2 separate regions of the Homo sapiens genome follow, and region 1 is linked to region 2. A link means that fine-mapping ties the variant in region 2 to the expression of a gene that starts in the linked region. Tissue or cell type: whole blood. Region 2 holds a variant in brackets; the other region holds the start of a gene. All regions are shown on one strand. Distances are between the middles of the regions.

Region 1 (8,101 bases), 620 kb after region 2:
TCCTTCTCTCCCCAGAGCCCCCTTGAGCCCCTCTGCCTATGTCCCTCTGCCTCCTCCCCATGCCCCCAGTTGCTGTGGCTTGATTCTGCTACCCTGACCCCACCATGTGCCAGGTGGCATCTGCCTTACTGCCTTCCCTGAGGAGCTGGGACATGCTGGGCAGTTGTCAGATGTAAAGGCACAGCTGGAGCAGAGGGCATGTCAGTAATGATTGGTCCCTGGGGAAGGTCTGGCTGGCTCCAGCACAGTGAGGCATTTAGGTATCTCTCGGTGACCGTTGGATTCCTGGAAGCAGTAGCTGTTCTGTTTGGATCTGGTAGGACAGGGCTCAGAGGGCTAGGCACGGAGGGAAGGTCAGAGGAGAAGGCAGGCAGGGCCCAGTGAGAGGGGAGCATGCCTTCCCCCACCCTGGCTTGCTCTTGGTCACAGGGCGGTTCTGGGCACTTGAACTCAGGGCCCAAGCAGAAGCACAGGCCCAGTCCTGGCTGCAAGCACAATAGCCTGAATGGGATTTCAGGTTAGGCAGGGTGGGAGGGGAGGCTCTCTGGCTTTAGTTTTGTTTTGTTTTCCAAATCAAGGTAACTTGCTCCCTTCTGCCTACAGGCCTTGGTCTTGGCTTGTCCTCACCCAGTCGGAACTCCCTACCACTTTCAGGAGAGTGGTTTTAGGCCCGTGGGGCTGTTCTGTTCCAAGCAGTGTGAGAACATGGCTGGTAGAGGCTCTAGCTGTGTGCGGGGCCTGAAGGGGAGTGGGTTCTCGCCCAAAGAGCATCTGCCCATTTCCCACCTTCCCTTCTCCCACCAGAAGCTTGCCTGAGCTGTTTGGACAAAAATCCAAACCCCACTTGGCTACTCTGGCCTGGCTTCAGCTTGGAACCCAATACCTAGGCTTACAGGCCATCCTGAGCCAGGGGCCTCTGGAAATTCTCTTCCTGATGGTCCTTTAGGTTTGGGCACAAAATATAATTGCCTCTCCCCTCTCCCATTTTCTCTCTTGGGAGCAATGGTCACAGTCCCTGGTACCTGAAAAGGTACCTAGGTCTAGGCCCTTCTTCCCTTTCCCTTCCTCTCCCCTACCCCAGAACTTTGGCTCCCTTTCCCTTCTCTCTCTGGTAGCTCCAGGAGGCCTGTGATCCAGCTCCCTGCCTAGCATCCATGACCTGTTGGATGTTACCTCCAATCAGTTTCCTGTCCTACCTGCCTCTTTGGCTTGGACCTATATGGCCATGCTCTGGCTCTACCCTTGGGAAGCCTGATCCCGGTGTGTGGCCCAGCTTGTTCAGGCCCTGGGATGCTGCATCTCCAGGCAACTATGCACTTTCCCGGGGAGAGAACCAGTATGAGAAGTGGGGGCAGGGCACACATTCATCTTTGTAGGAAGGTCTGGCCTGGGGTCGGGTGAAGGAGGGCCCAGGTCAGTTCTGGGGTCCCAGTGACCTGCTTTGCCATTCTCCTGGTGCCGCTGCTGCTCCCTGTTTCTGGAGCTGGATGTTCCCCAGCTGGCAGTTGAGCTGCCTGAGCCAATGTGTCTGTCTTTGGTAACTGAGTGAACCATAATAAAGGGGAACATTTGGCCCTGTGTGTTCTGCTGTGTCATGTGTCTTCCTGTGGACTTGCGTGGAGCCTCACAGCGGGCTGTGGGGCAGGGGCATGAAAGTATGGGGGGTGGGTGGATCTGTGGTCTGTCATTCCCCGAGACCTAGAGCTATACGACCCTGTGTGGCTCCTTCTCTGAGGCAGCCTTCAGTAGGTGATGAAATTGCCACCTAGGCCCCCTGCCTTGGGAGGAGGAAGTAGAAGAAGCAGGCTGGATCGGCCGGGCGTGGTGGCTCACACCTGTAATCCTAGCACTTTGGGAGGCTGAGGCGGGTGGATCACGAGGTCAGGAGATCGAGACCATCCTGGCTAACACGGTGAAACCCCATCTCTACTAAAAATACAAAAAATTAGGCGGGCGAGGTGGCAGGCACCTGTAGTCCCAGCTACTCGGGAGGCTGAGGCGGGAGAATGGCGTGAACACAGGAGGCGGAGCTTGCAGTGAGCCGAGATCGCACCACTGCACTCCAGCCTGGGCGACACAGCAAGACTCCATCTCAAAAAAAAAAGACACGGCTGGATCCCTGCGTAAGGGATGGTTTGGCCCAGATGGTCCACTGCGGCTAAGGGCGGGGGTAGAGCAGAGGCCCCACCTCAGCTCAGGGCAGGGGACCCGCAGCTGGTTCAGCCACCTCAATGAATACAGAGGTTCCTGGGGCCTGTGAAGGCTAGAAAATGAAGGGGGCAGGGAAGCATGCCAGTGTGTGTTCTTCTGCCGCCTTCCCTTTGCCCATTTGATGCCTTCCACCTGGATCGCTATTGGGATCCTCTATCTAACCTCCTGGCTGTCCTTCAAGATTCATTTCAAGTCACTCCTTCAAGAAGGCTTTCCTGCCTAGAGGTGTTGCTTCCTCATGGAGGATCTTACCCTGTCATTTTCTGTGTCCCTGTTTGTCTCAAGAACAGGGACGCATCTGATTTATCTCTGTATCCTGTGCACCTAAAATAGAAGAGGCTTGGTAAATATTAAGTGCCACGAGCCCTCTTTTACTAAGGACCTGCCAACATGGGCCCCATTCACACTAATACCATGAAGATAGCCCTTTTCTATACTTCGTCATAAAAAAGTAATACACACACCCGGGCAGCAACTTCCACACAAACAACACATGTGCAAGGAGATCACCATTATTTCCAGCAAAATGCTCCCCAGGGCCGAGCGTGGTGGCTCACTCCTGTAGTCCCAGCACTTTGGGAGGCCAAGGTGGGCGGATTGTTTGAGCCTAGGAGTTTGAGACCAGCCTGGGCAATAGAGTGAGAACCCGTCTCTACAAAAAATACAAACATTAGTCTGGCATGATGGTGCACTCCTGTAGTCCTGGCTACTCCATAGGCTGAGATAGGAGGATGGCTTAAGCCCAAAAGGTGGAGGTTGCAGTGAGTGGAGATAGCACCACTGCGCACTCCAGTCTGGGTGACAGAGCCAGACCCTGTCTCAAAAAAAAAAAAAAAAACAAAAAAAAAAACAGCTCCCCAACAAGATAGCAGGCTACAACATGCATGTGATGAAGCTGATTTGAAGCGCTCAGTGAGAGGTATCTGCATCAAGTTGCAGGAGGAGAAGAGAGAAAGGAGAGATAATCATGTTCCTGAGGTCTCAGCCCTGGATCAGGAAATCATTGAAGTATTAACATATCCTGACATTAAGGAAATGCTGATGTTTTTGGACTTTGGCAGTCTGTCCAACCTGCAGGTCACTCAGCCAACAGTGGGGATGAATTTCAAAACGCCACGTGGAAGCTGTTTGAATCTTTTTGAGATACTGTAATATTTTCAATAAACCTGGGACAACAGCAAAAAAAAAAAAAAAAAAAAAAAGGCCCCAAGCAACAAGCAGTGTGTGTGGGGCTGATAGGAGTGAGGAAAGGAGGTCGGACAGTTATGCCAGCCCCTATCGAGAGTCCCAGCAATACAAAGAACAGGGCCAGGGTTTGCTCCAGGATTTCCCCAGTGGACTACAACTCCCGGAAGGCAGAGAAGTGGACTACAGCTCCCAGAAGGCTGCGCGACATACAGCCAGCCCGGTGCTCTCGTGAGGCGTGCCAGTCAGATTCCGCGGGAGAGCGGCAGAGATACCGCGATATTTGGGAGCGGCCCCGAGACGCGCCTGGCGCGGGTGAGCAGTGGAAGGGGGCTGGGAAGCTGGGTTCTCGCGGCGGCGCGGGAGGGGAGGTTCGGGGAGCTGTGTCCGCGAGCGTGGGTCCACGGCTGTCTGTGTGTGTCCTTATTTTCCCCTGTGTGCCCATGAAGCTCTGTTTGCGACTGTGCGTGGGTAGGCGGCCGTCCATCTGTGCGACCTCACTTTCCCGGCTGTACGGGTGGGGCCGCCTGGAGCAGGAGGGACCCCCGAGCCCTGAGTGGAGGGTTTGCATCTGTACCCGTCCAGCCCGACTTTGTGCTGCTCTGCGATTATTTGTCCAGTGTCGTTTAATCTAGTTTAAATGATGGCCGTGTCAGCTCCTCACACTGAACGCTTACCCGGGCTGCCCAAAGTACAAAGTGTATTTAAAAAGTTGGTAAAATTAAAAAAGGAAAGCCATGGGATGTTGGAAGTAGCCCTAGGCCTGCCAAAAAGTGCTGAGTGCTATTTAAAAATTAGGCCAAATCTTGTCAGAAAAGAACTTCCTGCTGTCCTTGAAGTATTTGGAAGCAGGTGCTAGATGGTGAGCAGGAGAGGTTGCCAAGTTGGGGAAGTGGTGGTTGTCCTGGAGCAGGGGTTTCCACATCTCTCACAGTGGCTGGGAAGTAGCAATTCGCAGTCACTGCCTTTCTAGTAGCCCACGTGTGTGAGTGTGTGTGTTAGATACATTTATCCCTCAGTATCCGCAGGGGATTGCTGTATACTTTTTTTTTTTGAGACAAGGTCTCATTCTGTGACCCAGGCTGGAGTGCAGTGGCAGGAACATGGCTCACTGCAGCCTCGACCTCCTGGGCTCAAGGGATCCTCCTGCCTCAGCCTCCTGTGTAGCTGGAACCACAGGCATAAACAACCATACCCGGCTAATTTTTATTTTATTTCATTTTTGTAGAGACAGGGTCTCACCATGTTGCCCAGGCTGGTCTCAAACTCCTGGCTCAAGCTATCCTCCTTCCTTGGCCTCTCAAAATGCTGGGATTACAGGTGTGAGCCACCACATCACCCTCCTGTATACTCTTTTTTCTTTTCTTTTTTTTTTTTTGAGTCAGGGTCTCACTCTTGTCTCCCAGGCTGGAGTGTAGTGGTGCAATCATAGCTCACTGCATCTTCGAACTCCCTGGGCTCAGATAATCCTCCCACCTCAGCCTCCCAGGTAGCTGGGACTGCAGGCACGTGCCACCACGCCCTCCATATAATTTAAATAATCTCTAGATTACTTATAAAACCTGATACAGTGTAAATGCTATGTAAATAGCTACACACTTTTTTTTTTTTGTGGTACTATTATTATATTTTGAAATGGTCTCTCTCTGTCACCCAGGCTGGAGTGCAGTGGCACAAACATGGCTCACTGCAGCCTTCTAGGCTCAAGCGATCCTCCTGCCTCAGCCTCCCAAGTAGTTGAGACCACAGGCATGTGCCACCACACCTCACTAACTTTTAAATTTTTTGTATGGGGTCTTGCTATGTTACCCAGGCTGGTCTCGAGTACCTGGGTTTGCTCAATCCTCCCACCTTGCCCTCTTAAATTGCTGGGATTACAGGTGTAAGCTGGAGCAGAAGCCTGGGCAGCCGGTAGTGAGGGGCTTTGATGTTAGGCTAAAGGATTCAGGCTCATAATGGATCTTGGATCCCTGCCTACCCACCACCCACTTCCCTTGTTTGGTTCTGCTTTGTCTTAGGCTCAGTTCTCATCCTTCCTGTATTGAGCTTGAACGTATACCCTGTCTGGCCTTGCTTTCCTTGCTCTGTCTTTAGTCTGGTTCTGTGCCAGCTCCACCTTTGCCCATATAGGGACTGGCAGGTATCCCTGAAACCTAAAACTCTGCCCTGAATTAAACTCATCAGAGGAGACTTAAACATCACAAGCTGAGGCTCTTTGCTCTGTCTGTCCCTGTCTTTCTGGAGGATAGAGAAGCTGCCATTTTTCTGGCTGTGGCTTACCTGCTTGGCTAGTGCCCTGGGATCTTGAGGCTCAGTAATCAAAGCGTGTAGCCCTATAACCTGCCCACTTGCCAACTCTTTTTGCTGCTCAGGAGTTCCTGTGAATTCAGCAGAGCCCGGGGAAGTCAGGTACTACAGCTACCTGTGCAAATAGGTGACTCCAACAGGTTCTGGTTACAGTAATAGACTTACTGGTTTGGAATTTGATCCTCTTTGCAAGCAAATGAAGGAATCCTGCCAGCCATCACCCTTCCTGGAATTCTCAGGTTGAACTGATTGGACCTCGCCTCCAAATGTTGGTTAAATGATCCACTTTCTATTCTTCAAGTATATTAAGCACACACATACACACACACACCCTCTTTTTTAGGAAGGTAGGTAGGTTTGATCCTTAGCACAGCTTTGCTAAGCAGGCTAAGTACTGTATTTCGGACTATAGTGCCTGCTGTGGGGAAGCAGTTGAAGTCACTAATACAGATTCCTGCCCCAAGTTTAACTGACTGCTTTCTGTAACCTGTTTCCTAGGAATGAGATCAGCTTGATGTGGAGGAGGTTCAGGGGCCTCAGAGATAAAATTTGGCTTCTGGTTTTGCAGGAATCTACCTATCCTAGCACCAGTTGGCTAGGGTGGGACAGGGTCAGGGTTTGCGATCTGGCAGGTAGGTTTCCCTGGAGAATAAAGAATGTGCCTCCATCACCTACCAATGATGTGTTCTGGGAAGAAGCTGGCTGGTAGCCCTTCTGTACCTTGTCAGATTCTAACAGGGCTCCCCACTCCCTGGGGTAAACTCAGTTCTCCAACTCTGGCCAAGCATTGCCCTGGTTGGGGCCCTGCAGTGGAGCAGACATTGAGATTACTGGCAAATCAAACTTTGGGTGATCTTGCCCTAGGGAACCAGCCTGTGCTTAACCCCTGCTGAGAAGTGGGATAATGCAGCCAAACATGATCCTCAGCCCACGTGGGTTGTGCTCAAGTGCTGAAGGCAAATCCTGGGCAGAGAGGCTAGAGAGCCAAGGGGCCTGTGAGTGAAGAGGAGATAGGCCCCTGTGGATGCTCAGCCATGGAGGTAGCCATTGGACAACTCACCAGCGCTGCTTCCTGGGCAGCTGCCTGGGTTTCCCTTGCCATGCTGATTCTTTTTTGAGTGCATCTTCTAGGACCTTCTGTCTTGGAAGGAGAGCCCCTTACTGCTCTCTTTCATGTATTGACTCAAAGTTTCTGCTGGAAGGAGCTTCAGAGATCATCTGGTCCTACCTCTGCATTTTTCAGATGAAGGGACAGGTCCAGGGAGGGAATGACCCTGGACCAGGGTCACTCCAGGTCAGGAGCACACCATGGTCAGGGCCCAGGGCTTCTGCTTCACAGGCTAGGTATCTGTCTTCTGCTCACACTGCCTTGGAGGGTATAGTTATTCATTCAGCACCTGTTCAGGACTGCCGGCTAGTGGACTGCTGGTTGGCAATTAGACCCGGTCACACATTCAGGGAGCTTGCTGGTGGAGGGAGAGGCAAGGAAACTGATGTGTTAATTGAGTCTGTGATCACCAAAAAGGTGCATCCCAGGGAAGGACTGATCTCAAATAATTTCAGACAGGTGTCATTCCTGTCTTCTCAAACTCAACCTACAGATTCCCCAGAGGCAGCTACTGTGTTTTCCACAATTCCTTTGCATGGTGTTCTTTGTAATCGGTCCTCAGTGATGGTTGCTGATGAAGCACGTTCTGCTGGCCCAACCCGCCACGTGTAGGTTTTGGTGTCCATCAGCCATATTATCATGAGTGCACACTTCTAGCAACGTCTGAGAGCCAGAGGAAGAAGCAAACCAGCTAATCTCCTGGGGTGGCCTGCATCCCCTTTATGCTGGTTTCTTCCTGGGCTTTGATTTGTACGGTGGTGCCCATCTTGATTAACAGGGACAGGGACAGAGAGGCAAATCTCTTGGCTCCCTGGAGCACCCAAACCTCCCTGTTGCCCAGGGTTCCACCTCATGAGCATCTTTGGAACCCATCCCTTCCTGCCGCTTCCTTTCACCAGTCAGCCCAGTCCACCGCAGCAGCTCCTCTCGCCCTCCAGTCTCTCCACTAACAGGGTCCCTTTGACACTGTCACCAGGTGCCAGCACCGTCTTTCTAAAACCAAAACTCCTCACCCTGGCCCTCGCTGCCCACGGCATTCTGGCCTCACCCTGACTTTCAGTCTCACTTTCTGCCCCTCTACCACCCCCCATCACAGTCCGGCCTCACTAGTAAGCCACTCCCTGTTCCCCAACCTGCCACCCTCCTCAGGACCTTCACCTTGGCAAGATTGTTCCTTCCTTTGAAGTGATTTCTTCCTGTCTCTGAAAAACTAACTCATCCTTCAGGACTCAACCCCAATGTCATTTTTTCTGGGATGCAATCTCTGACTTCTAGAGATGGTCACCCTGA
Region 2 (8,101 bases):
ACTGAGTCACCCTGACTCAACTTTCATCAGCTTCAGGCCCCCCGTGGGGGTCCTTCCCCCACCGGATGCTCACTTTGCTGTAATGGGGCAGGATGTGGGTTCCCTGCTGTGGGAGAGCAGCCCCCACAGCAGCTGCTCCCTAAGATGGTTCTGGCAGGAACCAATGAGAGGAGAAAGCTGATCCTCAACCCCTGCAGGGGCCCTGCAGCCCAAGCAGAGGGCCTCTCAGCCCACCTCGGTCCCAAGTAGGACAGATTGACAGGTGACCTCCCTGTCTCAGAGCCTCAGGGTGTCTTGGAACAAGTGATCCCATCATCTTCCTCTGAGGTCCAAGACTCGGGTGCTAATGGACTCTGTGTAGGGAACCCTGGTCACTGGGGCAGACTCTGTCCCAGACCTGATCTTTGCCATTTTGCCAGAGTGGCCCACCTGACTGCTTCTCTCTGCTGTGTGTATCACTTGTATTAACCGCGAACCCAGCAAAGAGAGCAGGAGCTTGGGCCGGGCACAGTGGCTCACACATGTAATCCCAGCATTCTGGGAGGCTGAAGCAGGTGGATGACTTGAGGTCAGGAGTTTGAGACAAGCCTGGTCAACATGGTGAAACCCCGTATCTACTAAAAATTAAAAAAAAAAAAAAATTAACCAGGCGTGGTGTAATCCCAGCTACTCAAGAGGCTGAGGCAAGAGAATCACTCGAACTCGGGAGGCAGAGGTTGCAGTGAGTCAAGATCGTGCCACCGCACTCCAGCCTAGGCAACAGAACAAGATCCTATCTCAAAAAAAAAAAAAAAAAGTAAAAGTAGAACCCCTGTTTCTTGAGGACAAAGATTAGATGCATCTTTTTGTTGTGAAATTTTGGTAAACTACTTACTCTTTCTCAGCCTCAGTTCTTTGAACTATGAAATGGAGACAATAGTAATAGTATCAACCTCAAAGGGCTGGTGAGAAAACTAACCAAGACAATTCACACAAAGTTTCAGAACAGTCCCGGGCAGGTGCGTGACTTACGCATTTGGCTTTTGTTCACCACTATTACTACTTGCTTATTGAAGCTGAGCCAGGTGGCTGAGCAATGTCCCTTTCTGGCAAGGAGGGTGGAGGCAAGTGTCACATTTCAGAAAGATCCCTGGGCTCCTGTTGAATCTGTCCCCACACCAAAACATGCCCGTGGGGGCTCTAGCTCCTGCCCCAGCAGCGAAAGGGGCTCCTCCTTCTCTGGTGCCCAGTCCTAGCTCACCTGCTCTTCACAAGCCTCCTCCCAGCACAGCCTGCACCACACAGGTGCTCAGTAAGGGGGTTGCTCTGAACAGGGAGCAGGCCCACATGCTGAGAGTGGTGGAGGCGTGCAGGCTCTGATGACCACCTGAACCCAGACTCCAGGGCAGGACAGGTCCTTACAGACCGTAAGGGCTTCCTGCCTACCCTCTTCCCATGCAGTTACCTCAACCCTGGGACACCAGGAAGGTTGAGCATTCCAGGAAAGCCCCGACCCACCCAGGAAACCCAAGTACCTGGTGGGGCCTCATCTGGCCCATTGTCCTGAAAGGACAGGAATAAAGGCTCTCTCCTCATGGCCACACACCCTAGGGACGTCCAGCCTCCAGCTTTCTGTGGGTGGGGCAAATGACTGAGGAGGCTTCCCTCCCTGCAGGCGCCTCCCTCTGGGGCCTCCTGTGGTCCAGTCGTCCCTGGTCCCCAGCTCTCAGGTGGGTCATAGGGCATCTCAGCAGGACCACCAGGAAGAGCATCAGGAGGGGAAGGAGCCAGAGAGCCCTCCAGGCCAGTGCACTGCTAACTCAACATCTCATCTTCCTATCTCGTCCCTTCTGCTCACCTCCGGAGACTCCCCCTCCCCTCTCATGCTCTTCACTGGCAGGTTATGATGGCCCAGAGATCCCCACCAGAGTCCCAGATATCAGTGGGGATCCCAGCCTATTCCTCCAAGCTCCCAGTTGCCAGTGACAGGGAGGCAGAAACAGCCTGGAAATTAACTGTGGGTTCTCCCTGAGCCTGTGGATACATGGAAAGAGAGCTTCACCACCACCCCCTTCTCTGAATATACATACAGGATCTGAGGAGGGAGGATTCTGTGTGGATGCATGTGTGCACAGATGTGCATGTTTGTACGTGTGTATGGGTGAGCAGGTCATACGTGTGGTCCCATGTGCCCACCTGTTGTATATATGCATGCTTGTTTTGTGTAAGTGAGCATAAGAGGTCAAGCCAGAGAGAGAAATAGGAACAAGGAGAGACAGAGAGAGAGAGAATAGAAACAGAGACCAACAGGGAAACAGAATGAGACTGAGACAGAGAACAACAGAAGGCCAGACAGGTAGACAAGCCACAGTTCCATCTTCCCTGGTGCTGGCTGCCAAGGCAGACAACTCTCCTCTCACTTCATTGATGTTCTGCCTGTGTTTATACCCATGATTGGGGTGGAGTTCAGGAAAGGATGTATCAGGGCTAGGACGCCCCCACCTCCACACTCACAGGGCCAGTCAGGGCCCTCTGCAGGGGCTGCCATTTCCTCAAGCTGAGGAATGGGCTTGGATCCCTCGGATGCCTTCCAGGGTGCAGGGGCGCTCCCAGTGACTGGGCTCTTGTGGTGGCTGGGGAGGGGGAGCTCCTCTGACAGGCCCCATGCTGGGGGAAACGTCCTGAGACTGACCTATCACGGGCTGACATGCACACCAAGGAGGTCTCACATCTGCTGGGAAATGAGGGGCTGGTGGAGGTGAGAAAACCTCAAGTTCTAATGCCTTCCCAACACCTTCACCTCACCTGAGAAGCTTCTAGATTCCACCCACCCCTGTTTCCTTGGGGGAGGGTGTTGTGTGGAGGTGGGAAGAGGCAGGAGTCCAGGTTCTAGGCCAGGCTCTGAAGGGGCAGGTAGCTCAGAGCAAGAGGCTGGCCTTGCACCTGCTCTGCCTAATGGGACAGTAATGCCCACGATGGCATTCCGCCTCTGAGGGCTGTGGTGAGGCTGTGGAGAGATGTCAGGGACAAGAAAAGGCCTTGGAAACCAGCTGTGGGAAGAACAGCCCATGAGCTCAGCATTTCCCCTGGCTTCCCCGAAAGCCGGCCCCCAGGAGAGGAAGGTGACTGTGACTTCTGCCGCCACCACTTCCTGCAGCTGGGACCCTGCTCACTCAGAATGTGGAACCGTCATGGGCCAGCAGTGTCACCTGCACACTCACTCCTGCCACCAGGAAACCCTTCTGCAGGGCAGGTCCCCAAGCCCCGTATCTCAGGTTCTGACCAGGATGTGTCCTCAGCAGTGGTCGCCCGACATTGATGGGAGGGACGGGTCCCAGCTGGGCATCAGGATATGGAGGGTTTCATTCCAGCTCTGCCACCAAGGTACTGGTTGCCTCGAGGCATTCCCCTTGCTGGACCTCATTGAGGAGACTTCCTGTATTGCTAAGCAGGCAGGAACCCCAGAAGCTCAGAGCCGGAAGGCACCAGGGCTTCCCACAAGATGTGGAGGACCCAAAACAGGGAGACAGGCCCTGGCACCTAAGCGTTCCTTCTGGGCTCTACACAAGGTGTGGGTGGCACCAGAGCTACTGCAGGCTACTTGATCCAAGGGGCAGTCCTGCTCCACCGTGGGCTGGACGAAGACATCATCTACTCCAGGGCATCCACGCGTGGGGTGGGAGCCAACAGACCTGCGGTGCTGCCTTCCAGCTTGGGACTGGCCCCCGTACTCCATCCCGTGCACCCAGCCCTTCCGGCTCACCCCTTCCATGGCATGTTGTGCTCTCTCGCACCCCATGCTTTGCATGTGCTGGTTTCATTACCTGCAACACCTTCACCCCACTTGTGTCTGGCTAGCGTCCCCTCCAGAATGGAGAGTGGACAAAACATGGGGTCTGGAATTCCAGGGGTCAGGGCCCAGGCTGTTAGGAAAGGCAGAGTGTGAAGCAGACCCTCAGCAGGCCTCACAGCAGGGAGTGCTGAGCTCAGGGTTCTCAGGGGCCAGGATGGGACAGACGCCGAGGAGATGGGGGTCGGTAGCTGGGGCAGATTGTGCAGACAGTCTGGATTGTGGAGGAGCTGCCGGGCGCAGGGCCCCACTTGGCGCGGGCGGCTGTGGGGGAGGCTGAAACTGCAGACTATTTTTAGGCTCCTGCTGAATTGAGAGATGAGGATGCTCTGGGCTACAAGCCCTCATTCGCTGGGGAAAGACTAAGGGGGCCCCAGTTCCCCCGATCTGCCCCCAGAGCTCAAAGTCTCCAGAGCTTCCTCTTTTGTCTCTAGGGACCAAGGGCTGGGGTCAGGAAGTGGACTGGAAGTATCCCCAGCACCCTAGATAGGCAAACACCCACAAGAAGTGATTTCCATACCATTTGCACACTGCCCTGCTTCCTGATCAGAAGGAACGGAAACGTTCCCTTTCAGAAGACCCTCAGCGGAGCAGTGCATTCACCAGAGTCCACTTTCACCTGCCCCACTGGGTATCAGGAGAGTCCCAGGAGAGCGACACAAGCTCTAAAGTCAGAAAGCACAAA[C/T]GGGGGTTGTTAGCACTGTGGTGTAGCATCCGCTAGGCTCGGGGTAGCAAATAAGTTCCATCTGATCAATTGCTGGTGACTCCTAAGGAGAAATGCTGGTGAGGATCCATTCATTCATTCCACAAATAATTTACTGACCACCTACTGTGTGCTAGGTGCTACTCTAGGTGCTATGAAATTTAGCTGTGAACAAAAAAAGACAAAATTCCCTGCCCCCGCAGAGCAGATATTCCGTAACAGTGTTGTCCAACAGAAATACAATATGAGCCACACACATAATTTAAAATGTTCCAGTAGCCACACTAGATAAAAGTTAAAGAAGACCAGGAGCGGTGGCTCACGCCTGTAATCCCAGCATTTTGGGAGGCCAAGGCGGGCAGATCATTTGAGGTCAGGAGTTGGAGACCAGCCTGGCCAACATGGTGAAACCCCGTCTCTACTGAAAATACAAACATTAGCCGGGCGTGGTGGCGGGCGCCTGTAATCTCAGCTACTCGGGAGGCTGAGGTAGGAGAATCGCTTAACCTGGGAGGCGAAGGTTGTGGTGAGCCAAGGTCCTGCCACTGCACTTCATTCTGTGCTACAGAGCAAGACTCCATCTAAAAAACAAAACAACAACAACAAAAAAAGTTAAAGAAATAGGTGGAATTAATTTTTGTATGTTATCTAGCCAAATATATCTTATATCTGAAATATTATCATTTCTTTTTTTCTTTTTTTTTTGAGACAGAGTTTCATTCTTGTTGCCCAGGCTGGAGTAAAATGGAGCAATCTCAGCTCACTGCAACCTTTGCCTCCCAGGTTCAGGCGATTCTCCTGCCTCAGCCTCCCAAATAACTGGGATTACAGGTACACGCCACCATGCCCACCTAATTTTTGTATTTTTAGTAGAGACAGGGTTTCACCATGTTAGCCAGGCTGGTCTCAAACTCCTGACCTCAGGTGATCTACTGACCTCAGCCTCCCAAAGCTCTGGGATTACAGGTGTGAGCCACCACGCCCAACCTCTAATATTATCATTTCAAAGTGTAATCGATGTAAAAATTTAAGGTCATTTTTTTCATATTATGTTTTCAAAATCCAGTGTGTTGTTTATACTTACAGCACATCTCAATTCAGATGAGCCCTATTTCAAGTGCCCAGTAGCCCCCAGAGAATGCAAGTTCTGAAGAAAATCACTCATATGAGCTCAGGAAAGGAATGCCACAATTGATCAGCAATGCCTGCTCCAGGCATAGGCTACAGCTGAATCAAGCTGCAAGCCATGTGTTTCCCCACCATGATATAGGCTCAGCCCCAAAGGACGTGTTCACCTCTACCTAAGCCCTTCTGAGCTCATTTATTTTGCCCAACTTGAAAGAACTGCCAGAGTTCTGGGACCTTGACTTGGTTCGAGTGCAGCGGTTCTGGTGTGAACACCACCCTACAGAAACGCCCCAGCATACTAACAGGGCCAGCGCCTCCCGAGTGTGGTTCTGTGCTCCTTCCCTTGGTGGGGGCTGACTCATGGCCATTGGTGACCCTGAGAATGTGGATTTTGTTTTTGTTTTTCTCCCAAGGTCTCTTCCTCCCAGAGTTAACCAATATTGAGATAAAAGTGTTTCCGAGCCAGATTTAGCCATTTCAGCCCCATTCCACTGGCCCAAGCCTACAGACCTCCTGTCTGGCACTGTAGCCAGGATGGCTGCACTTTCTTTTCCAGTAAGCAGAAGGCTAAAATTGGACCATTTAAGGAGCTAGAAACACCTGGAAATGGTGAGGAGTGGGTCTTTGGTGTAAGAGATGGGGTGTAAGAAAACACGGATCTCAGGCTCCCATTATCCTCACCATTATTATCATTATCATCTACCCCACCCCTGCTCAAAATCCTTCAATTGCTCCCTAGTGTCTGCAGGATAAAGATCTTGCTTTAGTTCCCAGGATCGGGAACTGCTGGAGTCATCCAGTCTCACCTCTAGATACTCTCCCTTCTCTCATCTTATTCATTCATTCAGTAAGAATGTCCTGAGCACCTAATATGTGCCAGGCACTGTTCTAGGTACTAGAGATACAGCTGTGAACAAAACTGCCAAGGATTTCTGGCTTCATGGAGCTCACTTTACTCCAGCGAGCCCATAACACCCCAGGCCCTCTCACACTCCCAGGCCTTTGTAAATGCTGTTCCCTCTCCATTCAGTCACTCTCCTCCTGGGGAACTTCTACACATCCTCTAAGGCCCTACTCAAAGCCTTCCCTGAGCACTCCGCTCAATGGGTTAGGTTCCTCCTCTGAGCTCCCACCTCCCACCTAGGACCGTCACACGTATGGTCACTGTCCAGCCCACAGCCCTTCCCTACCAGGCTTTAAGTGTCTCCAGGGCAGGGGCTGTGCCTTCTCCCCCAGGGACCCCAGAGCTTGCTTCCAGGTGCACCCTCCCAAAGATCAGGAGTGAACAGGCTGAGGCATTAGTGTAGGGGGGATCCAGGATTCCTCTGGAGAATTCCATGTCATTCTGAAATCTTTGCCTGGGAGCATCTTCCTCCTGGCATTCCAGGGGAGGGAATCACAGGAGCAAATGCAGAGCGGTTCCAGCAAAGGAAGGTAGAAGTCTGAGGAGAGATGGGAAGGGTATGATTTGATGTAGCAGAGAGACAAGAGGACAGCAGCCTTCCCTCGGGGAGAGAGGATGACAGGACATGTGGATGGGGGATAAACCGTAATGACTCTACATTCCTAAAGTGGGAGGGAGGCAGAACGAAATCTGCAGTTCCCTGCTGCCTTCCCCAGGAGAGCTGAGCTTTCAGTCTCGTCCCTCTTCCTCCTCCCCAACGAGAATGCACAAGAGAGGGGAGAAGGATGGGCCTGGTTCCTGCCCCTGGCCTGGCTCTGGTCCCTGGCCTGGCCCTCAAGAAGCCAGTGCTGGGACTGTGGATATCGTGTGGTTATGGCTAGAGCAGATCCTCCCACCACCCGGGCCCAGCCTAACCGTCCTGCCCACACACCGCCAGCTAGAGGCCTGCTGTGCTGCTTGTCCATTGGGGAAAACAGGGCAGGAGGCTTGTGCCTGGCTGGCCTCATCCCTGCCAGCTCATTTACATGGAATTTACACGGGCTCATTTCATGCCTTAATGCACACGGCTTCCCTCCCAGCCCAGCCTCTCCTGGTGCCTCCACAGAGACAATGGAGTGGGTTCCATCACTCAAATCCCCTGCCATGGACCCATCAGAGCACCAGGAGCATCTCTGGAAAGAGGGAGGCTGCTGAGGCCCAGAGAGGACAGGGAACTCAGTGGAGACCACCAGCAGCACTCCAGGAGGGACCAAGGCTTAAGCCCACACTTTGTCCACTCGCCGCTCAGACCATTTGGGGCTGGAATTCACTCCCATCCTTTGCTTTGCCACCAGCCTCCAGCTTGCTGAGCAGGAGCCTGTGAAACCCCCATCCTGATGCCGATGCTTGGCTGTGCACTGGAATACAGACGGACTGGGACAGACGAGATGTGCAGGAAAGGGTCCACAGAAGCCCAGGTCCAGCCCTGCCTTTTACACAGGAGAGAAATGAGGCTCGGGAAAGGCGAGGGTCTGCCCAGGACCACAAACGCCAAAAA

Evidence for each region. PIP is the estimated chance that this variant, and not a neighbour inherited with it, causes the effect.
Region 1: it holds the start of PPCDC, and the variant in region 2 is fine-mapped to the expression of PPCDC in whole blood (TOPMed, PIP above 0.99).

What each region holds. Positions count from the first base shown.
Region 1 is chr15:75,019,916-75,028,016 of GRCh38, forward strand. PPCDC (phosphopantothenoylcysteine decarboxylase) reads left to right here and starts at 3,675. Exons shown (of 6, transcript NM_021823.5): 1 at 3,675-3,711. It overlaps SCAMP5 (secretory carrier membrane protein 5), which reads left to right. Exons shown (of 7, transcript NM_138967.4): 7 at 1-1,580.
Region 2 is chr15:74,400,012-74,408,112 of GRCh38, forward strand. No RefSeq gene overlaps it. Among named protein-coding and RNA genes, the nearest start is that of MIR6881, 7.4 kb to the right of the region's middle. RefSeq lists enhancers at 1-162, 1-150, 1,431-1,931, 2,661-2,710, 2,931-3,460 and 7 more and a silencer at 2,956-3,165. The variant C/T (reference allele first, on the strand shown) is at 4,515.